2 separate regions of the Homo sapiens genome follow, and region 1 is linked to region 2. The links come from fine-mapping of genetic effects on plasma protein levels. Region 2 holds a variant in brackets. A gene starts in the other region. All regions are shown on their reverse strands.

The links. PIP is the posterior inclusion probability: the model's chance that the variant is causal. The UK Biobank Pharma Proteomics Project read protein levels with antibody pairs (Olink). The fine-mapping took linkage between variants from a reference panel, not from the people measured, so its PIPs are less certain.
Region 1: it holds the start of LAMP2, and the variant in region 2 is fine-mapped to the plasma level of the LAMP2 protein (UK Biobank, PIP 0.94).

What each region holds. Positions count from the first base shown.
Region 1 is chrX:120,467,014-120,469,852 of GRCh38, reverse strand. LAMP2 (lysosomal associated membrane protein 2) reads left to right here and starts at 557. Exons shown (of 9, transcript NM_002294.3): 1 at 557-747. The coding sequence starts at 684. RefSeq lists a silencer at 355-619.
Region 2 is chr10:50,812,592-50,815,512 of GRCh38, reverse strand. A1CF (APOBEC1 complementation factor) reads left to right here. Exons shown (of 13, transcript NM_014576.4): 10 at 1,475-1,656. Among named protein-coding and RNA genes, the nearest start is that of A1CF, 72 kb to the left of the region's middle. The variant G/A (reference allele first, on the strand shown) is at 1,501.

The DNA of each region.
Region 1 (2,839 bases), not on the chromosome of region 2:
ATGTCCTTTGCAGGGACATGGATGAAGCTGGAAGCCATCATCCTTAGCAAACTAACACAGGAACAGAAAACAAAACACTGCATGTTCTCACTCATAAGTGGGAGTTGAACAATGAGAACACATGGACACAGGGAGGGGAACAACACACACGGGGGCCTGTCAAGGGGTGGGGGCCAAGGGGAGGGAGAGCATTAGGAGAAATACCTAATGCATGTGGGGCTTAAAACCTAGATGACGGGTTGATAGGTGCAGTAAACCACCATGGCACATGTATACCTATGTAACAAAGCTGCACATTCTGCACATGTATCCCAGAACTTAAAGTAAAATTAAAAAAAAAAAAAAAAAAGAAAGAAAAAGAAAAAGAAAATGCCGTCCGCGCATATCTCTCAGGAGCATAGGAAGGGCTGTGAACCAAAAAGCCAGGGCGTGGTCGCCCCGCCCACCGGCCGCTACATCACCACCCCTCTCGCCGCTTTCAAGCGCGGAGATTGGCTGTAAGCAAGAAAGAGCCCCGCCCCTAGTCTTATGACTCGCACTGAAGCGCCGATTCCTGGCTTTTGCAAGGCTGTGGTCGGTGGTCATCAGTGCTCTTGACCCAGGTCCAGCGAGCCTTTTCCCTGGTGTTGCAGCTGTTGTTGTACCGCCGCCGTCGCCGCCGTCGCCGCCTGCTCTGCGGGGTCATGGTGTGCTTCCGCCTCTTCCCGGTTCCGGGCTCAGGGCTCGTTCTGGTCTGCCTAGTCCTGGGTGAGTTGTCGGGCCCTCCCGATTAGTCTGTCCGCCTGGGCCCGGGGCACCAGTTCAAAGCTACAACCTGAAAGACTGGTCCGAGGGGGAGGGGGTTGAGAGGCTCAGCAGCTAACACTGGGCGGCGGCGGTTGGCCCGGGGAGGCAAGCGGTGACCTAGAGAAGGCCTGACCGACGGATGGCGGGGAAGAAGGGCCCAGGAGAGTAAGAAGGGGCCGGTAACGGGGGGTGGACGCCGAGGGAGTAGGCTGGGAGGAGTGAAGCGTGGAGAGGGTCAGCGTGGAAAGAGTAACTTGGGGAAAACACTGAGGAGTGAGCGTAGGAGGGTGGTACATGCAGATTTTGGGCGCCAGAGACAATTAGGAGAGTCTTGGTTTGCTGAGATCAGGGAAGAGTTTTGAAGATGGTGGAAAAACTATGGGGTGAGATAGGAAATTAAGAGAGAAGACCATGCCTGCCTGGAGTAGCTTGGGAGAAGTGTGTGGGTGGGGGACAGATGGGACAGATAGGACAGTAGAGCCTGAGGGGCAGGGGCAGTGACAGGGTTGGGCATTTTGAAGGTTGGAATTTGAGACTGTGAAGAAAGGATGATTCAAGAGATTAGGAGTGATGCTGGGTTTGAGTTTGGTAGTCATAGTTTTAAGGGCGAAGGAACCTAAGGTAGCTGGGGCAATTTCCAGGAAAGAAAACTTGGACCCAACCTCTGGAGACTAAGGGGTTCAGGGGGAACTTTGATGGGGAGTGCACATCTGACTTGGAGGTATTGAGGATGTCGATTTTCTCCCAGTTTTGCTACTTCCTCCCAGCCAGACGCTGACAAAAAAATCCCCAGACGTTTCAGTTAGGAGGGCCTCCCAGATGTGAGGTTTTGGGGGTGGAGTATTTGAGTTTGGTAGACTACCTCTTTGCCTTCAGAGTTTCTTCTTTTCTTTCTTCCCCATCACACAGCTAGCCTATTACCTCATATTTTGGGGGTGCAGGGAGCAGGTAGACAAACTTGCTAAGGATTGGGTTGTTACCAGGGCCTAAGAATGGCTGGATGGGGCCGGGCGTGGTGGCTCATGCCTGTAATCCCAGCACTTTGGGAGGCCGAGGTGGGTGTATCACCTGAGGTCAGGAATTCAAGACCAGCCTGGCCAACATGGTGAAACCCCGTCTCTACTAAAAATACAAAAATTAGCCGGGCGTCGTGGCACATGCCTGTAATCCCAGCTGCTTGGGCGGCTGAGGCAGGAGAATCGCTTGAACCCAGAAGGCGGAGGTTGCAGTGAGCCAAGATTGCGCCATTGCACTCCAGCCTGGGCGACAAGAGTGAAACTCTGTCTCAAAAAATAAAAATAAATAAATCAATAAATAAATGGCTGGGTGAATGTTCGCTGATTGTGTTGTGCCCTAATAGGCAGTGGGTCGCTAACAACTTTAATGCCTAAAAGTGAACTTTGACTAAAGTGTCTCTTCCTGACTTTGATTCATGCTGTGCTTGTTGCTACCCACCTGCTCTTGCTATTTGTGACTTAATAAAATAACATAAAGAACAGACCCAGATGGGAGTGGGGAAGAAATAGACATATTAGGGGTCTGAGAAAGCAGTGAGAGGTATACATTTTGTAATTCACATTTCAGTAGAATGAAATCAACACCCTGGAATAGTGATTCTCAACCAGGGGACATTTGGCAACATCTGGAGACATTTTTGGTTGTAACAACTGGGGGATTGCTTTTAGCATCTAGTGGGTAGAGGCCAAGGATGCTGCTAAACATCCTAACTAAGCACAGGGCAGCCCCTGACAACAAAGAATCATCTCCCTGAAAATGTCAATGGTGCCAACATTGATAAATCCTGCTCGAAAACCATAGTATTGGAAGGGTTCTTGATTATCTAATTCAGTGACTCTCGAGGACCTTTTCATGCGTCTGTGAAATCAAAACTTCGGAATAAGGTTAAGAAGGTATTTGTCCTTTTCTGCTGGGCACAGTGGCTCACGCCTGTAATCCCAGCACTTTGGGAGGCTGAGGCGGGCGGATCACCTGAGATCAGGAGTTCAAGACCAGCCTGACCAACATGGTGAAACCCAGTCTCTACTAAAAATAG
Region 2 (2,921 bases):
ACATATGAGATGTTCTCATCTGACCTCCTCCAGGAAATATGTTATACTTTCTTAGAAGCCAAATAATTAAGGACATTACTATATTTCTTTAATACATGGAGAACTGAACAACAAATAGAAAAAAAACCCTCAATCAGACTGCTAATAAAACAATAAATATTTCACATTTGAATCCTGTAAGAATTCTAAATGTTTGAGCAGTTTTCCAAGCTCCATTTCTTCAAGAAAGCTAGAAGATAAAGAAAGCCTTTATTCTATTTCCAAGAAACTAGCTTGTCCCTGTCTTTTTGGCTCCTTCAGATGAGTTTTTCTAGGATGTGGCTAATGCCAACTGAATCCCAGTTCTATCCTCCAAATACGACATGAATCTGGGCAATTCGATAAACTGTGCATTTAAGTCTATTCTTGGGTTTGACTTAGAAGCAAAAAGGCACATCTAGATTACTGTGGAAACAATTATCTTACTATGTTTTACTACTTTTCAGTATAACTAAATTGATCATATTAGGAGCTCTAGTCTTCAACAGCCTTAAAAGTTTCATACTCATAATTACTTGCCCCAAAATTGTAATGCAAATGAAATAATCAAGATTTCCTTTAAGGTAACTTGTCTATGTGATAATAAATTATATCATTGCAACATTATGCATTTAGAATATAAAATCACCTCATTAACCAATCCATACATTAAATACAAATTGTCAACCAGTTATGATGTCGAAAAAAAACAAACTCCACTATAAGGGAAAAAATGCCTATCTTATAACAAGAAAGGAATCAATGAATGATATTCATGGATGAAGGGTAATCAATTTAATTTTTTATCTCTATGCCACCAATATAAAATCAAAGTAGTAACATGGCAAAACAAAAATCAAAAGGAATCTATGCATGAAACTCAATGGAAATTTAAGCCTCACATTGACCGAACATCAGAGAGCATGGTGAACCTAAAAGCATGCTTTCTAAATGTTTGTTTTACAATAAGTCATTGGAAGTGGGATAATTAGGGAAGCCAGAATTTATTTCTGATATACTGATCAGTGACAGTCTCTATGCAAGACTGATTTCAAAATAAGTGGTCGCATTATGTTGGAATGTTCTAATAAATACATTCCCAGTCTTTATTAGTCTGTATAAAATATCAAGGTTACCTAAAGACAAAAATTGCAAATTTTCTATCCCAAAATTTTTAAGTTGTTTGTGTACTTATCAATAGTATTGTATTTATCAATGGCATTGTTTTCTTCTGAAGGTAGTTTTTCAAAAAAGAGAGACACCTATGTTAAACCTTACCTTATGTTGAGTTTCATTACATTAGAATCCTAGAGTCTCCCACCCATCTTCAGGGCAATAATCAACGTGAATTGGGCTAACTTTTCCATTACAGTAAGATTCAGGGTGATTTTCTGGTGGTTTGATTCAGTTTAATGCCTTCTTACGTTCCTAGAAATTTACATGAATGTACCTGTAGGGGCTGCGGGAGTGAGAGGACTGGGC[G/A]GCCGTGGCTATTTGGCATACACAGGCCTGGGTCGAGGATACCAGGTCAAAGGAGACAAAAGAGAAGACAAACTCTATGACATTTTACCTGGGATGGAGCTCACCCCAATGAATCCTGTCACATTAAAACCCCAAGGAATTAAACTCGCTCCCCAGGTAGGTAATGTTATTCCAGAAATAGTTTCTTTAAGTTGTGCCAATGAGCATCATTCACTTTTATCAAATGATTTGACTTGATCCCTACTCAAGCTATGGGTTTTTTTCTTTTAATATATAAAGCATCCAATGAATGTCACAGTCTTTGAAGGAATGCTGGGCATCTGGTGCCATTATTCTATTATAGGTCCTTTCTCTTTTTTAAAAAATCATAAAGTCTAACACCTTGAACAATATTCCACTGAAATGCAAAGAATCTGAGAGCTATTAAGAATTATCAACCCATACCCGAAATGAGGCAAAGACCCCATCTCAGAATAAATGCCTATTGTATGTGAGCCAGGTTGGCTGGCAAATGAAGAGTATTATGGCAGTGCCCTGAATAGACCATTTAGGACATCTTTTCTTGGAAATACTGTATCTAAGAGAAAACTCCACCATGATATCTGGGTGAATTATTAACTATGAGATGTCATCAGTCATACCAAATTAACTCTTCCTCCATAGTTATATTTTGGCAGTGGCATTACAGAGAGTTTTTACTGTGTTCATTTAACAGTTCTAAGTTTCCACACTTCAACATTAACCTGTGGTTTTTATTATTGGAAAATTAAAAGCTATAAAAGTTTCAATATGGAAACTGACTCCCGGGGTTAAAAATAAAACAAAACAGAGTCTATGCTAACCCTGAGACTGTTCCCTGTGGGAGTGTGATAGGTGCTGATCTCTCTGAAATACATTTTGGCTGAATAATCAGAGTTACAGTTTGTGTATCTTGAAGGAAACTTCCCTATTCCCATGACAAAGGTGGGCTTATAGCCTCACATTTATGGAAGTAGCCCTTATAATTTCAATCCAGAAGAAAACTGGTTTTCTAAAAGCTCATCTTGGGTAATTTTTTAATGGGATTTCTGGCTTTCTTTTATGCACAAATTAGCTTATCTAAGGTTTCTGCTAGCCCCACCCAGGGAATTTTAAAAAAAATGCCTATCAGACTGCTAAACAGCAATCATTTGTTCACATAAGATTTAGTAAACTTCTCTTATGCACCATGTAGTGCGCTAGGTGCTGGAGATGTAGAAGTGAATATAACAAAATCCTTATCATGAAAAATTAGATGGCAATCCAGTGGGAAAAAACTGACACGTAAACATATAATGAAATCTGGAAGTGATATGATGAAGTTTGTTCAGAAAATATAAAAGCCACTCATCCAGTTTCTCTTAGGTTAAAACCCAAAACAAAAAACCTGATTAAAGTACTGG